Homo sapiens: one gene and its partners. The protein of the gene in region 1 interacts with the protein of each later gene in a pairwise test. Each region holds a gene or a part of one and is shown in the gene's direction. Other genes may lie near its edges.

Region 1 (3,500 bases):
TTTACTCCATCTCTTGTCTTGCTATCTTTAGTTTTAGCCTTGTCAATTCCCCAGTGTAAAGATTGCTTCTGTGTGGCATATAGTATGTTTAAAATGGGCAATATAATGACGAGGAAGTTTGATTGTTTTTTATCAGACCAGTACAAACATGCAGGAAAAAGGGCTATTCCTTAGTGTGGAATAAGCGGCTTCCTGTAATTGTTAGCCTTGTTATAAACTTAATTTGACTTAAGAAAAATATTGGTTTCTGAAGTCCATCACATTTTTTTTTCTGGATGATTTAATTGTGAAATTTGGCATCTTGTGCTTTACCCCTTTGTGGTTTGTCATTGTCCAAAACAAATTGATCATGACTTTTGTTTCTGGTTAGGCATTACTTTTTTTTTTTTGCCTATAATGCTTGGCTGAAAAATTACTTTTAAATTTAGATAAAATTTAGTAAAAATTTTACTTTAGTGATTGGTTTGATGAAGTTAACATCGTGCTTAGAGTAGATGTATTTTCTGATAATTAGGAATTTTAAATGAGATTTTAAATTTTTTATTTTAAAATATTTTTCAAAGAATAAGCTTTTTAAAAATATGCTTGTCAGCCTAAGAATTTCCATTTGGCTAGTTACAAATTTGAGGATTAAGTGTGCTGGTTTTCCCAGTTGATGAAGACTTGGATGTTTTAGAATGAGTATTTTAATTCCTTGCCAAGTTAACCTTTAGTCTGTATCTTGACTGTGGACAGTCCTTTTGTTTTACTGCTTGTTTTTGTTTTGTTTTGTTTTTTGCTGTTGCTGGTGGTGGGGGTGTGTGTGCCAGCTCTTCCACTGAAGTATCTTCAACACGGTTGTTTTTTAAAGTTGTGAATACATTTTAGGTTGGGCCCATCATAAAATATAAAGGACATAAACTTGAGTTTGAAACCTTTTATTGAAGATAGAGATGATTATAGGATTACACATAAAACCTAGGTCTTAAACTGCTCTACCTTTAGAGAGACGTTTTCAACTGAACCCTTAGAGCAGTTAATATATGGTTTTTAAAAAAACAGACTTTTCTTGTCATGAGAATGAAACAACAGTAGTTGAATGCAAATTGTTATAATAAAGTTTTGTAATTTAGAATCGAGAAGGTGAAGAGTACGGTCTATTAGACTTAACAATCCTGTATTAGGGGAAAATGGAGAACTAGTATTTTAAAAGCTGATTTTGAGTTTTCAATTTTTTAGGTGGAGGTGGGCTTAAAGCTGCTGATAGGGAAATAAAAAATGTGTAATGAGGAAGAACAGTCAATCTTTTTATCGTGGATATCAGAAAAATTAGTGTGTGGCTCAGAAAAAGAGAGCAGATGGATTAGAATGCCGTATTACTGATTTGAAAATATATTTTCATTTTCTGATGGTCTTTTTGTGTTTACAGTAAACTTTCTGTCTGACCTCAGTTTAGTTTATACCCTGCCTGCTCCCTCTCCTTTAAATATATGAGTAAAAATATTTCGTTAAAACTTGCTTAAATAGTTGCTATTTTTTCATGTTAATGTTTATTTTCACTTCTTCTGCCTCTGTTATTGGATGTATCATAAGGTTTTCTTACCATAATTTTTTTTTTTCCTGAGAATTCATTTACAAAAGCCTTGACTTAAGAATTATATGGTGGTTGGTATTGAGAGGACTCTTGCTATACAGATTTCTTACAAAAAGGTTTTCTTTTTGTCTGAAGAAGCAATTACTGTTGTCAGTAATCATCATCTGTAACAAACAGATTTTAAGGTGAAATAATCTGTTCTTTAGAAACTAAGATATTGCTTTTGTACACAGTCCTTGAATTAGTTGTAGCAAGAAGGAAGCTACTATTTATAATCACTTCTTTCCATTATCTTTTCTCACCCAGGAGGTGTCAGCAGCTATATATTGGCAGTCACGGAAAAGATCAGTTGTATCATTATGGGGCATTTATTAAACATTCATTCTGTACTTTTAAAGCTAAATTCCCCTGTAGGTGGAACGTGATTCCTTTGGAAACTGTATCCAGTTTACATGTTTTGTAGTAAAAGTTGTATCCGACTGTAACACAGTTGAGTTGATAGAAATAGGTCTCTTTGCTAGTCACATTTACGAGTGTATTTTGGGATGAACACTTTTTCTTAAATGACTGAGAATGTCAAGTTAAATCAAGTTAATTTGACTTCTTAAATGCTTTATGCACATTATATTTCTGTTAATGCTTCACTAGTCACTGTCGCTGTCCTGGAGCTGATTGAAATTGGTCAGTTTCCCATAAGAGCAAATGGTTTTTGGTTTCCTTTTTCAGGGAAATAGATTTCTGTGATGAAAGAAGTGAAGTATAATAAAACCCTCATGCTTTGACCTGGCCTTCACCGAAGCATGATTCAGATTCTTTTTTTGAGGCCAATATACTTAGACATGTAAGGGCTTTTCTTTTCTTTTCTTTTTTTTTTTTTTTTTTGGTGGTTTTTTTCTTTCCTTTTTTTTTTTTATGGTTTGGTTTGGTTTTTATATCAAGGGAATTACACCAGTGTGATCATAGGAGCAACTTTTTATAAACTGGAACTACAGTTTAATTTACTTGAGAAATTCGGTGTAGCTAATACATTTGTTTGATTTATTTGTTTGATGTTGCAGTTGTAAGCAAAACTTGCCCTTCTCTGTTGGAGATGGAAAATGCTGTGACATTGTTGGTTTTTGTTTGTTGATAACTTAAAAGGCAGCCCACTGAGCAACTTTCTGCTATTGGTATGTCAGCTGTTATGAACATATCCAAGGTTCTATTTTAAGGCCAAGGGATGGGGAGTGGTGAGTGGGCCTATGTTAGGAGGTCACACAGATATATACCAGCTTTTTATTTACATGATCAACGGGACTTCATTTTTTTCTCCAGTCCCTCCTGTGTTTGACATTAAGACAGCTTAATGTGAATTTTAAGTGCAATAATGTGTTGTTTACCCTTAATGATAACTTTTAGGGAATATTTATACCCCTTTAAAAAAGTTTTGGGCCCACAATAGCTAGATTATTTCGTGTTTTACAGTTATATTTTTTACTTAACAGAAAATCACAACTAACAATAAACTTTTATGGTGAATATAGTTTGTTATCTTAGTGGGACTGTTAAGAAATTTGTTTATAACCCCAGTCTGTGTTAGGTACTACCTTCTATGGAGTGATCATTATAGTTAGCATTGGAATATTATTACCTGTCTGCCCTCTTAAAATTACTTTCTTGAAGGTGCCTACCTTAGAGCCTGGCATACACTTCTCAGATGTTTGTTGAATTAAACATGTTGACATCTTACCTCCTTTTTTGATTTCTAGTTTCTCAAAGATAGGGTATGTGCACATGGTTTAAAAAAAAATGAAAATCTGAAAGTGACATTAGAAATATTGTCTAATAATTTTAAGAAATGAAGCAGTTGTGTGATTGTTGATAGTTTTGTGCCCTTAGAGGAAAAGGCACTTATATGTTTTCTTAAAAACAACTTAAAAACATGTCA
Region 2 (3,500 bases), on another chromosome or scaffold:
GGCTGTGTGCAGTGGCTCACACCTGTAATCCCAGCACTTTGGGAGGCCGAGGCAGGCAGATCACGAGGTCAGGAGATTGAGGCCGTCTTGGCCAACATGGTGAAACCCCGTCTCTACTAAAATACAAAAAATTAGCTGGGCATGGTGGCGCATGCCTGTAATCCCAGTTACTTGGGAGCTGAGGCAGGGGGATTGCTTGAACTCGGGAGGCGGAGGTTGCAGTGAGCTGAGATCATGCCACTGCACTCCAGTCTGGCAACAGAGCAAGACTCTTGTCTCAAAAAAAAAAAAAAAAAAAAAAAAAAGGCTAATGTTTATACCAGGCAGGTAGAAAAACAAAAACGGACCTCATTAGAGGATACATGAGGTTTCTAAAAGTGGAACTCCTTTGTAAATGTAAGAAGTGATATCAATATTATTATTATTTTAATATACTTATTTTGAAGTAACTAAGTTTTTTTGTTTATTTCTTGAAAGAAACAATAGATTGGGGAAAAACCATTTACTCTTTTCATGCCCTAGTTTCTAAATCTGTGACATTATAAAGGTGTAAATATTTATGAAAATAGTAGAAGTTGCCACTGGCTGTATTCTTTTAAGTAAGGTATCTCATTTAATCTTTTCTACTGTAAAGTAGCCGTAAAGTAATAAGACTTTTACCTTAAAGATCATGACTAGAACAATTTTTTCATTTGCGGAGATATGAGGCTTGTCATTTTTATTATTCCAATGTTCATGTTTTTAACCAATTTTTCTTGTCTTGCCTCCACTGATTATATATAAAGAATAGCGATGAGAATATAGCTGTAATTATGATTACTAACATCTTTGAATACTTTCTGTGTGCTAAGCTAAGGTTTATAATTAATTCATTTATTCCTCAGAACAACCCTATGGTATAGGTACTGTTAATATTCTGATTTTACAGATAGGGGAACTGAAGCACAGACAAGTCCAATTAATTGTGCAAAGGTACTTAATTAATAAGTAGCACAATAAGGAGTTGAACCAAGGTAGCCCAGCTTTAGAATCCATGCTCCTGTGTAAAAGAATAAAAACAGATTTTAAAAATACTTATTTTGGATGCTGATAGGAGCTTGAGAACATAAACGTTTGGAATACTTTAAAAGACTTGTACTTTCTACATCATTTGAAGAGATTCCAGAAGAATGGGCAGAAAGTAAGAGGATAGAGAGAAAAGGCCTGGGGTGAGGGGTGGGAAGCATTAATAGGATAGGAAGAAATGAGGAATCAGGTGTTCAAGGGAGATTGGTGCTACACTTTTGAGGTCATTGATGACCAGCTAGTAAGTTTAATAATACGTAGTGTGGAACATAAACAGACACTTGGTGTTTAGGGTAGTAACCTTACAGGAGTTGTGTTTTGGTGACATTTTATAGGGGTAGGACACATATAGAATGAAGTAGAGATTGTGGTTATACAGAACAGAGATGAGGGACTAGATGAGGGGAGTGGCCCTAGAATGAAAAGGAGGACATGTATGCTGAGAGAAATGTGATAAGGTTAGGCTGCATAGGATGTACCAGCTGACTGGATGTGGATATTAAAGGCAATGGGGGTATTAACAATTATTTTTAAAATACAGCAAGAATTTAAAAAACTTTTAATCAATCAAAAATTCCTTATTTAAGAATTATATAAAATATCAGTAAGTGAAAAACATTTAAAATTGTATTTTATCAGGGATTATAACTTAAGTAGAAGATACATGTTAATTTCTTAAAACATTTCATTTCTGTGCTAAGCTCTTTCAAAGCACTGGATGGTGATCTAAAGGTCACCAAATTCTTTGTCCCAAATTGGTAATTTTAAAGTAAACATAATTTCAACGTTAGGCCTATTTTGTTATTTGCTGAGAAATGTCTCAATGTCAACCAGGCAGTTCTCCTCTCTTATTAAAGTCCATGCTCAGAATGCCTGTGTAACCTATCCTTAGTGATAAACAAGGTGGCAGATAGATACATGATAAAACAAGTTTGCCATGTGCTCAATGTGGCTGACATTTATACTTCTCAGACCTTGCTATTTTAGGGAAGGTATCAGTATAACCAGGGCATTCTTTTTCCTGGAACTAAAAATCCTTAATAATCAGTCACTATTATAAACAGAATGATTTACATACAGGAATCAATAAACAGTTGCTTTTGGTTAATGGTTATCTGGAGTAGGAGGATAGTTATATTTCAAATAGAATAGAAAGCTTTATTGGAATACTTACATGTCTTTTTAGTTTGAGGACCTTACAAGCTTTTTACAAATAAATGGTTTAAAATAGTTTAAACAGAAAATGTCAGAACATTGATAGATTATGTTTTATTTAATATACAGAGAAAAATTCCCATGAAATAAAGACAGTTTTCAAGAAAAATATTCTATTTATAAATATTTACAACTTATTAGTTATTTAGATTGCCCGTGTCCATAAAAATAATACAGAAATTACACTATTTATGTCTTTAAATATAGCATGTTTCTATAAACTAGAGAATAATGTTGACAGTATTTTATTTTGCCTTTGTTAGTATTATGTGAAAGTCACACTTATTACATGCCTTTTTCTATTATTAGACTTTTTTTCCTATCTAGTTTTTGCCTTGTGCTATACAGTATGGTGAAAATCTATTTAGCTATGTCATTAAGATAATGCTTAGAAAATGCTAATTTTTAAGTAACTAAGATTAAGTAGTATTGGATATTCTTTGCCTTCTTTATTATTCTGTCATTGGGCTAATTTTAACTAGACAAATTTATTCCAAAGTATTTTGAGCCATTATTTGAACTTCATTGCTGTAACATTCAGGAAAAACTGCATTGTCTACCTAGTGGCATTCAGATAAGGCATTTGGTCTTAGGTACCTCTTCCAAAAGACTTTTAAGAGGTTTGATAAGCATAGCAAAAGTGAACGACGGAGGATACAAGAAAATCTTTGATCCAGGAGTAGTCTCTCTGAAGCATTGCATGACCTTTCCAAAAAATAATTTGAGAAGTGCCTAACAATAGAAAAATATATATTTTTTCCTTCAATAGGAAAGACTTTAGAAAAAATATACTCAAGTAGAATTCTGCATAATGCTTTCTGGGGGACCACATTTGCTGAAAATTGCCTACGGGAAATGACTTTCTCAGAGTGATATAGTTTTGAGGACTGAGATTTTAAAAGTAAATATTTTATTGGGAGCAATTAATTTAGGAAGAATAGTATTATGCCTATTCCTCTGTAGTTGATTAAAGTTTACTAAGTGCTGAGGTCTTTTCCCTTAAAACATTACTTTGCCATGTTAACAATCAGGTCATAGAGGAATGAATTCATCTTTTGTGTTTTGCTAAATAATCAGTTAACAAACATATTCTGAGCACGTTTAAAGTCAAAGGATTGTAGTAGGTCACAAGAGGGAGATCGAAAGTATAATTACATAGTGTCTTTCCTTCTTTGACATACAATTGGGTTGAGGAGAAAGACTTGAAAACTTAATGCAAG
Region 3 (4,107 bases), on another chromosome or scaffold:
GAGCTCAGGCTTGGGCTAACTCTCAAGACTCCTCTTTCTCCCCCACCTGCAGCACAGGCAGGCGTGTTCCAGGTGGGGCTGTGGCTGGGGCAGAGGATCTGTGGCCTGTCTGGGGAGTGCAGGAGCTTCCCAGGGGCTGCCTCTCTCATCCTTGGCAGCCTCCTTTGCTGGCATGGTCACTCCTGGACAGATGCAGTGGCTTTCTAATGTTGCCCAGGTGCTCCTTGGCAGCCCCCCAGCCCCAGCCCCAGCCCAGTCCCAGCAGCTGCAGCGATCCTTTGAAGCAGAAGCCAGACTGCAGTGCCCTTGTTCAAACCCTGCAGTCTTTCCCTCCCTCCTAGAGGGAAACACAGCATCCACCCCAAGGTCCACTGACCCCCTCCTACATGGGCCAGTCTGCAGGCCCCTTGCTGTGCCCTGAGCATGTCTGTCCGGCGCGCCCTCACCACAGGGGCTTTGCACGTGCTGCCCCTGCCACCTGGAATGTGCATTTTCCCATTTTTTTCAGGTTTCTGCTCCAATATCTGCTCTTAGGGAAGACACCCCTGACCACTGTACCTGTGGCGGCAGCCCACCACAGCATGCCACTGCGCTGCTTTCCTTCAGGCAGTTCTTGCTGTTGCCTGAATCACAGCACCCATTCATCTCTGGCTTGATCTCCTCCCTTACTAGAATATGAGCTCCAGGGGGCCACACCTTTGTCCGCTGCTACGTTTGCTGTGCTTAGTGCATTCACAGCACACACTAGCACCTCATATCTGGTGAACAAGTAAACAAACAAATCCTCCGAAAGCACCCCATCTGGGGTGTAAGAAGACCAGGGTCAGACCCCGCAGACCGCCCTTGGTCCCTTGCGAGCAGGGTGTGTCTCTCCTAGGAGCAGGCCTAGGGACCCAGCCTCAGCTGCCTCCAGACTGGGGTCCTGTGCTGCTGATTTTTCATCAAAGTTGCCAAGGACCTGGCCCAACTTCACAGGAGTCATGATGGGGTGGTGTAACACAGAGTGGGAAACAAGCTTTGGGGCAGGGGTGGCCCTGGGGCTACCTGTGAGGGCCCAGTGGAACCCCTCCCTCTCCCAGTGCCCCTACTTGACCAGCAGTGAACCCACCCCTTTCCTGCCCTGCAGCGTAAACATTCCCCAGCCTCCTACAGGCAGAAAAACACCTCCAAGCTGGCAGCTGGGCCAGGCCCCGCCCACCAAGCTGTTTTCCTAAGACAGCCTTCCGAGCAGGCTATTTTTGGCCCTCGTGACAGTGATTGATAGCTGCTGGGAAGGTATAAAAGCAGCTTGCCTGCGAAGGTTCTTCACACTGCTCAGGGAAGAGCCTGCTACGGTGGACTGTGAGACTCAGTGCACTGTCCTCCTCCCAGCGACCCCACGCTGGACCCCCTGCCGGACCCTCCACCCTTCGGCCCCCAAGCTTCCCAGGGGCTTCCTTTGGACTGGACTGTCCCTGCTCATCCATTCTCCTGCCACCCCCAGACCTCCTCAGCTCCAGGTAAGAGAGAGCAGCTGCCCTTGGGTTTGAGACAAAACACAAGGGCTTTGTTTATTTTTGAGGGCAATTCCCAGCCTGAACTTGCACAGCCTCCCTATGGGTTAGAGACCAGGGCTGTCTGTAGAGGGCTTTGCATTTATAAAGGGATTCAGGGGTTATTTCATGCATTTCCTACAACATCCCGGCCAGGGGTATTTATAACCCTGTTTTATGGATGGGTAAGTGGAGGCCTGGAGAGGTGGCCTTGCCAAAGGTCCCATGGTCAGTGCGTGGCCGATCCTGGTTTTAAACCCAGCCTTCCTCTGACCAGTGTTTGTTAGGTTAGGTTCTCTTATCTGTGCACATTCTGAAACGATAATGATAAAATCTTAAGCCTTTGGGGTTTTTAACCTGAACAGGAAGAAAAGATCCCAGCAGTCGGAGCTCTGGTCTGGGCTCTGTAGACTTCAAATTGCTCTCAGGGCACCGGATTCCTACAGGCAGCCCCAGAGGAGTGTGGTGACGCTGAGGGGCGGTGGGACGCATGGCAGGCCCTCACCACCAGGCTTCTGTTTCCCAACAGGTTGCCACCTCCTCTCGCCAGAGTGATGAGGTCCCGGCTTCTGCTCTCCGTGGCCCATCTGCCCACAATTCGGGAGACCACGGAGGAGATGCTGCTTGGGGGTCCTGGACAGGAGCCCCCACCCTCTCCTAGCCTGGATGACTACGTGAGGTCTATATCTCGACTGGCACAGCCCACCTCTGTGCTGGACAAGGCCACGGCCCAGGGCCAACCCAGGCCACCCCACAGGCCAGCCCAGGCCTGCCGGAAGGGCCGCCCTGCTGTGTCCCTGCGAGACATCACCGCACGTTTCAGTGGCCAGCAGCCCACACTGCCCATGGCTGATACTGTGGACCCCCTGGACTGGCTTTTTGGGGAGTCCCAGGAAAAGCAGCCAAGCCAGAGGGACCTGCCAAGGAGGACTGGCCCCTCTGCTGGCCTCTGGGGTCCACATAGACAGATGGACAGCAGCAAGCCCATGGGGGCCCCCAGAGGGAGGCTCTGTGAAGCCAGGATGCCTGGGCATTCCCTGGCAAGACCACCGCAGGATGGGCAGCAGAGCTCTGACCTAAGAAGCTGGACTTTTGGGCAGTCTGCCCAAGCCATGGCCTCCCGCCACCGCCCCCGCCCCAGCAGTGTCCTCAGAACACTCTACTCGCACCTCCCGGTGATCCATGAACTCTGACCCCTCCCCAGTAAAGGCTTCTGTAGAGAGCATGCTGGGTCTGCATCTCCTCTCGTCTCCTCCATGGTGGTCACTGCCCCTGGCAGGTCTCTGAAAGGGAAATGCTTTTCTGCAGAGGCCCCTGCTTGGGCAGTTCACAGTGAGACCGACCCCCTCTGAATATGATAACAGCCTGTTTCACATGAGGAGATGTTACCAATCCCGTTCGCTCTGACCCTTGCTGGCTGATCACCTTGAGCAACTTACTTAACATCTGTGTTCCTCAGTTTCTCATGGGTAATATAGGGATAATTACTGGCACCTGCCTCCCAGGCCATTCTGACGTGTAACCGCATATAGGAGCCCACTGGCTGAGTAGCTACCATCATCGCTGGTGGGGAAACTGGTGGTAGGGGTGTGAGGGTAGTGGGGGTGTCAGCCCCCCAGGTGTTTCAGAACAAGGCCTCGGGCACTCCCAAGTCTGCCTCTTGGCTCCCACCCTCAAAGCCCATGTTCTGTGAGGCCCAAGAGAACACATGGAGTCTTAGCAAATGCACTAATGTATTCCGGGGGACTGTCACCTGGCACCACTGGGGCACTCTGCTGGCTACAACTCATACGTCCTGTGGTGGCATTGGGAGAGTTCCCCCATGATGAGGGCCAAGATAGAATCTGTACCACTCAGTGCTACCATCCCCACCCCTACACCACTTCCACACAGGGGCCTCATGGCATGGTCAGGGTCCCAGCTGTGGGTGAGAGCAGGGCACTGTCCAGCTGTCCACTGGGGAAGTCAAGATGTCCTAAGGCCCAGGTCAGGGCATCTGGAGTCTGAAGGACCCTAGTTCCTAGAGGCATCTGGCAGCAAGAAGGTGAGGCATCAGGGAACGGGAATCAGGCTGGGACTGATCAGAGGTGAAGGGACAGAGAGAGGAGAGGAGGAAGATTGAGCTGGGGGCAACAGCCAAGCTCACCTGGGCAGGTCTCTGCCACCTCCTTGCTCTGTGAGCTGTCAGTCTAGGTTATTCTCTTTTTTTGTGGCTATTTTTAATTGCTTTGGATTTGTTAAATGTTTTCTGTCTTCTGTTAAGTGTGTTTTCTCTGGAGATAGAATGTAAACCATATTAAAAGGAAAAAGTTTCAGACAAGCAATTACCCAGTTTCCTTATCTATAAAATGGGGACATCAGCAATGTTCTTCACACCCTGCAAGGGCTGGGAATCTGCGCATGTGAACTTGGAGCTGCATTTATGAGCACTGTAGACAAATGTTTGTATCTGTCACAGCCCACTGTGTCTCTGTGGTGGTCTCAAACCTGCAGGTCCCTGACTTTGGGCAAACGTGTGGGGCAGCCTTTAGCCGGGGCAGCCTTTAGCCAATCATCATCCTCGGGAGAGATCCAG
Region 4 (3,333 bases), on another chromosome or scaffold:
GCTGTCTTTTGTAATTATGCATCCTAGCTAAGGCACAGAAGACTGAATGAATGCAAGGATTCATTAACTCTTTGAATTTGTTAAATACTAACAGTTAACCATTAGAAGTGGTTCAATGATGTAAGAGTCACACTGCTTCAACTTTTTCTTTGTTGTAGTTTTTAAATTGTCGATTTTTAGCTATTTGACAGATTAAAAGCAAAATAATCATGCCATATTTAGTCCTGGAGTTCAAGTCTAAATGTTGATGTGAAAAATTATTGTAGTAAACTTTTAATATGGCAAAGCAACCTTAAGCTCTATTTTAGCCAAATGAAACATAATCTGAAATTATATTAGAACATTTCCCTTGTCTTCAAACTGTTTGGTGTAACAGAATATTGATATGCAGCTTGGTGGATTTCACCAGTTAATGCACATTCTTCTTCCCTCCTCCCCCCATTAATATGTATACTGAAAAATGTGCATTTGTCTGAGGAATTATTTTGTTTGCTACCACTTAATGAATCTCAAAATTTTGAGTAAATGTACCTCAGTCTAATCAGACTTTTTATGACCTTTATAACTACATTTAAAACCCTTAATTCCTATTTCTGGGTGTTTGCGAGCCTGATTGCTATCATGAAGTAAAAATTTATTACTCTAGGTATTCACTAGCTAAATAAACATAGTTCTTGTTTAGCAAGCATATGTTGTTCCTCAGCTCTTTTCTCCAGCTTTTGCAGTGTCCTGGCATCCTTAAAATACTTTGAAAATATGGCCTTGATCCATGGATTAAATCAGTATCTAAGTGAATGTGTTGATGTTTTATTGATCAGATCTATATAAGTGGGAATACAGCATATATCTGGATATTCTTATAGTTATCTTTTTAACATCTTATTTTTTTCATTAATTACATATCAACATTAATTTTGTATCTTGAAGCAAATTGATTTTGTATAATTAAATGTGTCAAGCATCTGTATTAATTGATTTGATGGCATAAGGTTATGAAAATAATGTACTGCCCCATGTATTACTGTTCCAAAAGGAGAAAGCTATGTAGAAAGATACATTAAGGGTGAAAATAGCAATACAGTAGATTTGAATACCTTGATGTTTTGCATTACTTCATTTATGTTTACATCATGTTTAGAAATGTTTTCATTTACTGTGGTCTTTGGTCACTTCAGCTCAAAGACCTAGTGATGGATATTTCTTTGAGGCTTTCATTTATATAATTTTATTTTGTACAATGTTTTTTTTAAATGTGCAAATACTGTATTCAAGTGAAAAAAATACAGTATTTGTAGATAACCATAGCTACTACACAGTTCTTCGGTAGTCCCAGTGTAGTTATATCAGTGTTTACTGAAGGGAACATCAAAATATTAATGGTATATTATAAAATAAAGACTTTCTTAAAGGAAAATTGCACCTATTTTACCTTTTTAAGAGTAAGCCATGAAATCTTGTAACATGTCTCTTAACTATTTATAATGAAAAGTGGCATTTGGGTATAGTCACCACAGCAATGTTCTACATCCCTAAGATTATCTAGGTAGGACATGTCAAAGATGACTGTTGTCATTCTGGAGGTCCTATTAGAGAATATTATAAAAGGGTGACCTTGTAGGAAGGATCTGAGTCCTCCCCCTGAGGTTCTCTTTTTCTTGGTGCTTTATTAGCAACTCTGGATATTTTTATAAAACTAGTTACATTATAAACGGTTTCAAACATGTTTAATTTACATTAGGTTTTTATGTAAGAGTGTCATGGAAGCACTCAGCAAGCAGGCTGATTGCAATAGACTCAGACATGCGAATAAATGTAATTGAGAGTCTATTCATGGTGAGGAGTACATCCCAGTGCCTTTAACCTGGATTTCTAATCTTAAGTGAAATGGGTGCAGCATTCCTTTGGAAAAAAAAATCTTTTTATTTTCAAGTGATAATTTTGTGTTTTTCTCATATAAGTTTTCTCCAGAGCACCCACCTTCTCTTCCTTCTTGGTCTGTCATTATATTGCAAAATATTTTTCCTCTGAATGAAATTATCACAGGTTGTCTCAAGCACAACCAACTGAATGTCTCTTAACTGTGGGGACCAAAAGGGAGAGAGCCTGGGGTCTACAAGAGGAGACACATCATCAAATGTTTGAATGATCACAAATTAAGACATTATCAGCCCAGTAAATTTCTTGCTTAATGTTTTTCCAAGTTCTGGCTTGAATATTTCTTATTAAAGCTATCTTATGTGGGTATTTTATTTTGAAAGGTATTATAGTTTGTATATTTAACAGTAAGGAGGAAACTGTAACCAAAATTAGTATTTCTCTATACGTATTGGTACTTGAAGATTCCTTTCAAAAGAAATCCAGCGTTTTCCTAATTTTAGTACTTAATTTCTCTTTTTAATTTAAGTGATCTTTCTAATTCGAAAGCTGTGTTCTTTTTGAATACCGTGCATGGGGGTTAAGCTGATGTTAAAACAGTTTGCAATAAAAAAAAATGAATCAGCTTAAGTCATTTAATCATTTCAAGTGCATTCTGCATCCTTTAAAAATAAGTTTAAGAAATTTAAGAGAATTGTGTTTTCATTAAGTTTTGCATATCTTTTGTTATGCCATGTAAATTCCCTTTTTCGTATGATTAAAGGAAGGTTATGATAAAATGATTAGTTCATTTACATTCACTTGTAGCAATTACATGAGAATTTGAATTTTGTCGTGTTTGGGTTTGTTCATTCCTGTGAATGATGGTACAGTTAGGTGAGATTTTCTGTTATGGTACCCAAACTCACCATTTGGTCCTCTTTAATCTTTGAGGGTTTCAATAAAAATTGTTCACTCATATCTGTGTTCTTTCCATTTTATCTTCATGAATATGTATTGCTTGCCAGAAAACGTAACATTTTTGCCTACTCTGTTATGGATTTCCTGATTGACATATCTTTCACGTACAAATAGATTATATCACTCCTTCTGGTTGACTTTAAATTAAACAGAGCAGTTAATCAGAGGGAGGGTAACAGTTTACCTTATTTTTTATCCATTCCAAGGAGCTTATTGACTTACATGCTTTTAATACTAAGTTTAGAACAAAAGAGAAAGAGAAGGCCTGTTTGTTTTTTGTAGCAGGAGGAAATAGTGGCAGCAGCTAATAATCCTAATCCCCCACTCTTGGTACCAAGGAATGTTTTTCTGACATTGTCTGCATTACCTCTTGGGATTGATAGTTTATGTGGATAGGATCATGGCAACTCTGGGTGATGCACTGATTATTGCTGGGCTCTCTATCTAAGGTATTTGTTCAGATAGGAAAATTACAGAATTGTTTTGTGTTGTCAAAAC
Region 5 (2,409 bases), on another chromosome or scaffold:
TAACCAGTCGCTATTTAGGAAAAAAAACCCACTAGTTAGGCCATCAACAAGCATTCTTTTTATATTTCTTCCAGTATAATAAATTATTGATATCACTGCTGACTTTTATATTATGGGAGGGAAAAAATAACATTAATAAAAAGGTGATAAAAAAGCACTGTTTCTATTTTTTTCTTTTTTTCCAAAAAAAGAAAGTAATAAAAACTTAAATTCTTTGTACCAGTTAAAAAAAATGTATAAAATTTACATCTGTGCAGTGGAGTTGTTAAGTTCTAGAAACAGTCTATGAAGCTTTAGTTTTAGCCTAGTAGAACAACTGTTAGAGACAGACGTATAATTTTTATGGAATTACATGATAATCATATTCGGATTTATAGAAGCATTTTACAAGTATTGCAATCATTGAGTAGAGATAATCATGGTATTTTCATCAGCTTGGTACTTTTTGAAACGTGACTGCGTTGTGTGAACAATCTGCAATTTTTCAGTCCGTGAGATCCTGCCCTTCCACCTCTTTCCCATACCCCCAAGGATTATCTCAAAATGATCTCTTTAGTTCTGTCTCCAAGGCCCAGGACACTTGTCAGAAGGATGCAAAAAAAGAAAAAAGTACATCCACCCTCTTAATCCCAAAAGAACAAAGTCTCCCCACCTTTCTCGGATGCAGGGCCAGAGTGACACAGCCGAAAAATTGCAGTTTGTCTGTACTTCTGTTTGAACTTTCCACGTTGTCCTGTTTACAAGTTAACTTAAGTTGGGGTATCCGTCACGGGTCTTCCTGTTTTGTATTTAAATAAAAACAACAGCAGCAGGCTGTCCCTGAGTAGTTTTGCTGCCATAGGTTAAGTCCTCATGTGTACAGTGCAGGCCCTGTGGCCCGCACTTCAGTAAGTTATCAACTCTCACCGCTGTGAACCTGCCAATCCGCTGTAACAACTCTGCTTTAAAACAAAACCAAACAAAACTTTAAAAAAAAATGTGTGATCCAGCTTTCTCTTGCCATCCTATGTGCATGCCGTAAGATCAGTTGGATATTAAACCATCAATAAAGTTTCACAAGATTTGAAAACAAAGTTTCTGTAGCTTCGATACCTAAGACAGACGATAGTGATCTTGAAAAGAGAAAAGGGGGAGGGGGGAGCTACTTATCAGCCAAAAGCATATAAAGTGTTCTTTTCACCAGACTTCTTTGGGTGGGTGAGGGGAGGGGCAAGAGGGTGTTTTATAGCATCACTAAGACATTCTCATTCCCCCACCTGGAAAACAGTGTTATGGCAATGGGTGCCTGGTTGATGTTCTTAAAGGAAACGAATTATTAAAACACTATGACATCCTCCAGAGGGAAGAAAGAGTAGGAGCAGGGGGCTATGGAGAATAAATTTCTCCCAATTGCCGCCTCAGATTTCAAAATCCAGAATTTGTATTGTGTTTCGAATCACAAACATAGAATTCTTACTGTGTTGGTTAAAGTAAAATTCATTTGCAGTTTTGATTTTCATCAATGAGCTGTACTTTCCCCCATGACTGTATGTAGTTTTAATAAAATCATTTAGAGTGAGTGAGTGCCAACCGATGTTGCAGAATCTTTTGTCTAGGCACTCCAAGATGCCAATAAGTCATTTTAAAATGTATGTCAGAGATGTAAACAAACATTTTGGATTTTTTTTAAACAGTATTTATTTGGAATGTTTTCATTTATCTAAATAACTATTGCTATTATGAATTATGGAAAATTAATATTATGTGTGGCATATAGTGACTTCTTAACACACACATCACGCAATCTGCAAACCCAGAAAATGTGTATATCTGTCTTTAGAAATTAGTGTTTATATCACTTACAGTGGTTTGTGAATAAAGAAAACTGGTTTGTAATATCAAAAAAATAAAAGCTTAGTCTGAAAAGGTACAAGTTGGTGTTCTGAGTTATTTGGCTTCCATGGGTTTTCTCTCTCAGTGGGTAGATTTGTTATCCACAGCTGTGATTGCACTTGGGCCCGCCCGGGGATGTGGGGTGGGTGTTGCCCAAGTGAGCAGGAGGCTGCCCTGGCCACCAGTAGACCAGATGCCTCCTGCAAGTTCCCTGCTTTTCTGGATTAAAATCTTTCCCTTCCTCACTCATTTTCCCAAAGAAGTCAGTGGAACTCACCCTGGCTGTTTAAGAAACTGAACTAAGCTTAGCTATCTCCTAGCATGGAAGTATCAAGTCTTCAGTTTAAAACAAAATACATCACTCATCTTAAATATGTTTGAGCTATTAATTACTTTTTGGGACACCTCGGATAAGATGAAAAAAATATAGTAAGTGCTAGAGTTCACATACATTGAGTGCTCATTAGGAGCCAAAAATCGTGTGTTCCTTATTTAAAAATCAGGGTTGAACTGTCCACCCCATTTAGTTACTTAATA
Region 6 (3,500 bases), on another chromosome or scaffold:
TAAAATTCTTTTCCAGATAAGCTCCGAAGAAGTATGCCTAACCTAGCCCGGATGCCAAGTACAACTGCCATTAGTAGCAACATTAGTTCTCCGGTCACCGTGCGAAATAGTCAGAGTTTTGACTCAAGCTTGCATGGAGCTGGAAATGGAATTTCAAGAATACAATCTTGTAGTGAGTATAATTATTTGATATAATTATATATTGTATAATTGTATAATTTTTTATAATTTTTAATTGTAAGGAAAATGTCTGTTTTATTTCTTTGTATTTACTTGAAAGAACACTAAACTTTTTTCCTTGCCGTGTAACTTATTTTTTTATTTCACCATTAGAGTTGAATAGTATTTTTACTATTCAAATAGTATATTTACTATTCAACTTACCAGTGCCTGTGGTATAAATTACTTACCAGTGCCTGTGGTATCAATTAATAATAGTAAATTGTTATTTGTATAATAATAGTAAATTATTTGTAGTCCTTTATATCCTAGGATAGTAGAAGTACTACATGGTGATTGATTTATCCACTCATCATACAAAAATTGTTTTCCTTGCAGATCCTCCTCCTTCTAGCTGTCTACCTGAATAAGCACACTTAATTCTGTTTAGCCGTTCCTTTTGTCTTGTTTTTCACCTATGCATACTTTTGTCTTTTTCCCCCTAAATGAAGTTATATTTTAGAGTGTCTAAAGTAGTTTTTGTCCACTCTATTTAGCTTACCCCACATTCTGTTACTTACTTTCTATGTTTTACCCAGCAGTGAGTGACACAGTTAGCATTAGGCCTAGTGCTGTGTATCTTCACTTTATGTGGGGATGTGCTGCTTCGGCATCCCCCTATTCCTACTCATGCTGTCTATATGGGTTGTTGCAGTTAAGTCTTACACTGACTTCCAGGAGGAAGGCACAAGGTTATATTACCAGTATTCATAAAAATGCCCAAACTTGGGAGGCTGAGCATGTTCTGAGTGTACTGGCCAAGAGTCGTCAACCGGATGTTTTAAGTCTGCATCCAAAATGGTTTGTAGCTTTTCTCCCTCAAACTTAGTTTTAGGTGTCAGGTTGTATCTCCCTAACATGCAGCGATCTTTCATTTCTTTATGTTTTAGTTCCTAACAACCAAGTGACATCATTTACTCTGTACAAGGAACTGTGCTAACTAGTTTATATTCATTATCTTATTTAGTTCTACCAACAACTCTATGAATTAGTTTCTACTGCCATTCTTATTTTGTGGAAGAGGCAACAGTTCTGATAGGTTAAGGAACAGTTTGTCTAAGGCCATACAGTTGGAAGAGCAGAGAGGCAGACCTAGGTCTGGTTACTCCCAGAGCTTTTAACTGCTATCATATTCTAGCTCCACGTGCTGTTCTTCTCTGCCTAGCATTCTTCCTTTTCCTTCTTCGTTCAGTTTACTCCTATTTACTTTTATAACACAGTCCAAATACCATGCCTTTGGAAGTCTTCATTGCTTACTTAATCACCCTAACACACTTTCTCAAATACCCCCCAAACAATACTAGAGTGGATTAGATTTTCGGTGCTTACCTCTGTTATTCAATGTACCATGTTTTACTATTAATATGTTTGTCTTCCTTACTAGATTGTAAGCTCCCTCTGGGCTTGGGCCATCATTTATTTGATTTTCTGTTCCCAGTGCCTGACGTATTGCCAGAACATAAGGAACTCTCAGTGAATGCTTGAATGAATGCCACAGGATTCTATGTTAAGGCTTGACCTATTAAATATTTAGAACCAATGACTTGTATAAGGACACATAAACAACCTATGAAATTTGCCAATAGTAGAAACCGAGAGGACTAACAACTCATTTTATGTCAGGAGGTTAGGAGAATGGGCCAAATGTATCATGAAGAAATTTAGCTGATAGAAATATACAATTCTATGTCTGAATTACAAAAATCAGTAACATACCAGCCTAGGCAATATGATGAAACCCCGTCTCTACAAAAAATACAAAAATTAGCCAGGCATAGTGGCACATGTCAGTAGTCCTAGCTACTTGGAAGGCCAAGGTAGGAGGATCACTTGAGCCTGGGAGGTTGAGTCTGCAGTGAGCCAAGATTGCACCACTGCACTCCAGCCTGGGCAATAGATAGAATGAGACCCTGTCTTGAAAAAAGAAAAAAAAAAATCAATAGTGTAAGTGTGGGAGGGGAGAAATACAGTTTGGAGAATAGCAAATATAGTAACAATTAGGAATTTTTGTTGACTCCAACTCAATGTGTATTAGTAGCAGATTTGAGTGCCAGAAAAATGTATGTAGCCCAAAATAGAATGTACACTGCAAAGAATGTTCAGCCTTGATTGAAGTGCCCCCAAAATGACGGGAAAATGTCAAAAGGATACAGGAACCAAGTTGAAGGAACCTCCTAATGGCCAAATTTGGGGCAGTTTGAGCCACAGAGTAAATAATTATAGTAATGGATTATAACTGATGGAATAAAATAAATATGCATGGGTTCATACTTAATTGGATAAATAGAGGGGAACATCCTCTTTGTAGTAGATTCCAATTCATGCGTGTAAAAGCAATGAGGAAAATATAAAAATCATCATTTCTAAGTCAAGCATAATACTGAGAGAAAGCCCCCAAGAAGAATATTAAAGTGTAGGAGAAGGAGGACTCTCATAACTTTTGTTTCAAATCTTAAGATTATGTTCTCATTTACTTTCATTTCTGAGCATTCTAAGCCACTGTTCTTTATGCATTCTAAGTTCCTATCATGACAATTTCTGGTTCTGGGCCATTTTGCTTTCTGGAAAGAACAGAGGTAGGATAGAGAGTTGGAAAGGCTGCAAGTATAGAAGGAGGAACACAGTTGTAGTCAAAGACCTGGTTTTGGGTCTTTTCTTAATCATAAATTCTTTGGAAAGTTAAGTATTCTTTCTCAGTCTTGTTTTCTCAGTTGTAAAATTAGGATTATGCCTATTAATTCTAACTAGTTTCTCTTATGTGTTTTTTTTTAAATCAAGGGTGGTTATATATGTTACATGTAGGAGAGATAGTAGGACTCTATTCCTGAATAAACTGTTCTGTAATTTCATTTCAAATGAAATTGGTTGGCATTTCATTGACTCTGCAGATCAATTTTTGGAAGATCTTAACAATATTAAGTCTTTGCATCCATTAATATGTAATAGTCCTCCATTGACTCAGGTCTTTAATATCAGTGAAGTTTTGTAGCTTTCTATATAGAGGTTTTATGTTTCTATAGTTAAATTAATTTCTAGGTATTGTGATTTTTAATAAGTAGTATTTTTATAAATAGTATTTCCTCAGGTTTCTTTCAGTTTCTACTAGTTTGCTGGTATTTTGAATATAATTGATTTTTGTGTTTTGATATTGAATCCAGCAACTTTGCTAAATTAATATCTCCTAATAGTTACCCAACATAATGAGTGCATATGATCACCAAAACATGTTCAAGGAGGTTCATAAAACCCCAAATTAGAAATAACCTAGCTTTCTGTCATCA
Region 7 (3,075 bases), on another chromosome or scaffold:
TAGGACATTACTTCCTTATATGTATGAAAAGGATGCGTGTTCTTACTTGGATGTAAAATTCTGGTATAATCTCGGTTAAACCAAACGTGCTACTTATGTTACCTAAATCCTGTTATACTTATTAATCTGATGATCTCTGAGAAGTTGTAATGTCTCTTACTTTTTAGTATGGTTTTGATCAAAATGCAAATCTGACCTACTTCCCCTGCCCAGCTTCCAACCCTGCTGTGGCTCCCCAGTGCCCTCAGGAGGACACCCATGGCTCAGCCAAGAATGCTGTGCTTTAAGAACAAAAAAGCTCTACTGGGGTGCCTGCTGGCTGCTCAGCCCTTCTCATGACACTCTCTAAGCCCCACTACTTCTATTACAGTTACACTAAACTGAAAAGGGAAAGGTTTTGCTTATAAATATTCTTCCTGCCAATAATATTCCCACTCACCCCTTGCCTAACACTTCATTGCCCCTTGGGTCTCAGCTCACAGGTCCCTTTCTCCAGGAAGCCTTCCCTGGGCCTGGCTGGGTCAGAGGGCTCCCCTCTCTTAGCACTGATCCCACTGCCTGGGCTTCCCTGCTTCCAGCGCTGGTCCCCACTGGCTCTCCTTCTCTAGTGATGTCTCCATTCCCTCCTCCTCTGGACCAGGAGCTCCCTGAGAACCCTGGGTCTGTTGGTGTGTCCCCAGCATTGCCTGCCACAGGGCTGAGCCAGAGGAGCTTCTCAGTGGTAAATTTTCATGGAATGAACCAGGGGAGAGGCCCCCACATCTCCAGGAGGGCTCCCCAGACTCTTCTCCAGGATTTCTTGATGCTGAGAGTGCACACACACACACGCATGCACACACACACCTTGTCCCAAGTGCCCCTGTCCCCCATGACACACACCCCCATCTCTCTCTCCCACAGCTGTGGCCCCCCAGAGGGCCCCTATCCTGCGTCCAGCCTTCGTCCCCCACGTGCTACAGAGAGCAGGTGAGGGGCCAGGGTCATCATCCCTGCCACATAACTCCCCCCAGGCCCTGGAACTCCCCACTAACACCCTGACAGATTCCGCTCTCTCCTCTGCAGCAGCCGGCCCCCGCCCTATGGCCCTACGGCCCCCTCACCAGGCCCTCGTGGGCCCCCCTCTGCCTGGGCCCCCTGGACCACCCATGATGCTGCCACCAATGGCTCGGGCTCCAGGGCCCCCGCTGGGCTCCATGGCTGCACTGAGGCCCCCTCTGGTGAGTGTGAACAGGGAACTAACGGTCAGATGTGCGGTGGACGGGGAGACCATCCATCCTGGCCCAATGGGCTATGTCTGAGTTGGCCTCTCTCCTGACTTTCTGTTTCTCTACCTTCTCACTCTGCCTTTGTCTCTGTCTCTTTCTGCATCTTTCTGTGGCAAAATCTGTTCTCTCCTTTTGTGAAGGGAGTACAGAGAGAAACATGCTATTGGAATATTTCTCTTTTGATTGTTACTGATGTTCTTGTCTGTGGCTGTCTCTCTCTGCCTGTGTTTCTCCTTCTCTGTGTTTGTCTGGCTGGAGACTCTCTGCTTGGGTGTCTCTTGGCTGCTCTCTGGCCCCCAGGCCCTTTCTTTGTTGGATGGAATGGAGATGACAGTAAAGTCTGAGCCTGTGAGCCGGCCCCCCTCATGCTCTCCTCTTACCCACAGGAAGAGCCAGCAGCACCCCGAGAGCTGGGCCTAGGCCTGGGGTTGGGCCTGAAAGAGAAGGAAGAGGCAGTGGTGGCGGCGGCGGCTGGGCTGGAGGAGGCTAGCGCGGCTGTGGCCGTGGGGGCAGGAGGTGCCCCAGCTGGCCCTGCAGTCATTGGGCCCAGCCTGCCGCTGGCCCTGGCCATGCCATTGCCCGAGCCTGAGCCCCTGCCCCTCCCGTTGGAGGTCGTCCGCGGCCTCCTGCCCCCGCTGCGCATTCCTGAACTCCTGTCCCTGCGTCCTCGGCCCCGGCCCCCTCGGCCAGAGCCACCCCCAGGCCTCATGGCTCTTGAGGTAAGCAGGGAGCCTAGCGGTGAAGGGACAGAAGGGACGGGGGGCAGACAGGAGCCCAGGAACTTCCACACAGACAGACCGGACAGCAGGAGGACCTGGGGGAGGGAGGCGGACACATGTGCCCCACATCCAGAAGCACATCCAGCCCTTACTGTGGTGGCAGGAGGGCCGGGGACCAAAGGACAGTGGGAGACCCCAATACCAACCCCTTTGCACCTCTCCCCTTTCCTCTGCAGGTCCCAGAGCCCCTGGGTGAAGACAAGAAGAAGGGGAAGCCAGAGAAATTGAAACGGTGCATTCGCACAGCGGCAGGGAGCAGCTGGGAGGACCCCAGCCTGCTGGAGTGGGATGCAGGTAAGCTGCTGAAGCTCGAGGTCAGGCGTGGCTCGGCCAAGGTCAGACCAGGCTGCTGTCCTTGGGCTGCAGACTGGGAGGGTGAACCCTCTCAGTAGGGTGGGCGCTGTTGTTAGCCCACCTTGGGGAGGGGAGGCTATGGCTCAGGGGCTGGTTCTTCACCTAGCCATGGGCCGGAGCTTGGTGGAGGTGACGGGGACATGGGGCTTTGTAGCCTGTTTTACTCATGAGGTGCCTGGCTTCAGAGAGCATTCTTTTTTTTTCCCAACTCTTAGGATAAAAATTTTTTTTTTTTTTTTTTATGAGACAGAGTACCACTCTGTCGCCCAGGCTGCAGTGCAGTGGCGCAATCTTGGCTCACTGCAGCCTCCGCCCCCCAGGTTCAAGTGATTCTCCTGCCTCAGCCTCCCAAAGTGCTGGGATTACAGGCATGAGCCACTGTACCTGGCCGGGAAAAATTTTAAACACAGATGGCACAGTAAACACCCGTCTACCCACCACCTAGATTCTGCAATTAACATTTTGCTGTGTTCACTTTTTTCCTCTTTGTGTATGTATCTGGTTTCTTTGTTTTTAGCTCAGTCATTTGAAGCAAGTTATAAGTGAATTAATCACTTCTAAATATCTCAGTATTTATCTCCTAAGAAAAGAGATATTTTGGCCAGGCACGGTGGCTCACACCTGTAATCCCAGCACTTTGGGAGGCGGAGGCAGGTGGATCACTTGAGGTCAGGAGT

What was found.
Region 2: the proteins of QKI (region 1) and MBNL1 interact in a two-hybrid assay, tested with the Homo sapiens proteins (one large-scale study listed by BioGRID).
Region 3: the proteins of QKI (region 1) and DEPP1 interact in a two-hybrid assay, tested with the Homo sapiens proteins (one large-scale study listed by BioGRID and IntAct).
Region 4: the proteins of QKI (region 1) and YTHDF3 interact in a two-hybrid assay, tested with the Homo sapiens proteins (one large-scale study listed by BioGRID).
Region 5: the proteins of QKI (region 1) and RBFOX1 interact in a two-hybrid assay, tested with the Homo sapiens proteins (one large-scale study listed by BioGRID and IntAct).
Region 6: the proteins of QKI (region 1) and SLAIN1 interact in a two-hybrid assay, tested with the Homo sapiens proteins (one large-scale study listed by BioGRID).
Region 7: the proteins of QKI (region 1) and RBM42 interact in a two-hybrid assay, tested with the Homo sapiens proteins (one large-scale study listed by BioGRID).

Annotation. Positions count from the first base shown.
Region 1 is NC_000006.12:163,417,718-163,421,217, forward strand, and holds part of QKI (KH domain-containing RNA-binding protein QKI), read left to right. Parts: intron 1-3,500. UniProt on the Homo sapiens protein: RNA reader protein, which recognizes and binds specific RNAs, thereby regulating RNA metabolic processes, such as pre-mRNA splicing, circular RNA (circRNA) formation, mRNA export, mRNA stability and/or translation.
Region 2 is NC_000003.12:152,275,429-152,278,928, forward strand, and holds part of MBNL1 (muscleblind-like protein 1), read left to right. Parts: intron 1-3,500. UniProt on the Homo sapiens protein: Mediates pre-mRNA alternative splicing regulation. Acts either as activator or repressor of splicing on specific pre-mRNA targets. Inhibits cardiac troponin-T (TNNT2) pre-mRNA exon inclusion but induces insulin receptor (IR) pre-mRNA exon inclusion in muscle.
Region 3 is NC_000010.11:44,976,010-44,980,116, reverse strand, and holds DEPP1 (protein DEPP1), read left to right. Parts: upstream 1-1,307; 5' UTR 1,308-1,499; intron 1,500-2,061; 5' UTR 2,062-2,086; coding exon 2,087-2,725; 3' UTR 2,726-3,989; downstream 3,990-4,107. UniProt on the Homo sapiens protein: Acts as a critical modulator of FOXO3-induced autophagy via increased cellular ROS.
Region 4 is NC_000008.11:63,209,954-63,213,286, forward strand, and holds the end of YTHDF3 (YTH domain-containing family protein 3), read left to right. Parts: 3' UTR 1-2,833; downstream 2,834-3,333. UniProt on the Homo sapiens protein: Specifically recognizes and binds N6-methyladenosine (m6A)-containing RNAs, and regulates their stability. M6A is a modification present at internal sites of mRNAs and some non-coding RNAs and plays a role in mRNA stability and processing.
Region 5 is NC_000016.10:7,711,432-7,713,840, forward strand, and holds the end of RBFOX1 (RNA binding protein fox-1 homolog 1), read left to right. Parts: 3' UTR 1-1,909; downstream 1,910-2,409. UniProt on the Homo sapiens protein: RNA-binding protein that regulates alternative splicing events by binding to 5'-UGCAUGU-3' elements. Regulates alternative splicing of tissue-specific exons and of differentially spliced exons during erythropoiesis.
Region 6 is NC_000013.11:77,753,187-77,756,686, forward strand, and holds part of SLAIN1 (SLAIN motif-containing protein 1), read left to right. Parts: intron 1-16; coding exon 17-172; intron 173-3,500. UniProt on the Homo sapiens protein: Microtubule plus-end tracking protein that might be involved in the regulation of cytoplasmic microtubule dynamics, microtubule organization and microtubule elongation.
Region 7 is NC_000019.10:35,632,036-35,635,110, forward strand, and holds part of RBM42 (RNA-binding protein 42), read left to right. Parts: intron 1-900; coding exon 901-966; intron 967-1,041; coding exon 1,042-1,217; intron 1,218-1,651; coding exon 1,652-1,984; intron 1,985-2,220; coding exon 2,221-2,338; intron 2,339-3,075. UniProt on the Homo sapiens protein: Binds (via the RRM domain) to the 3'-untranslated region (UTR) of CDKN1A mRNA.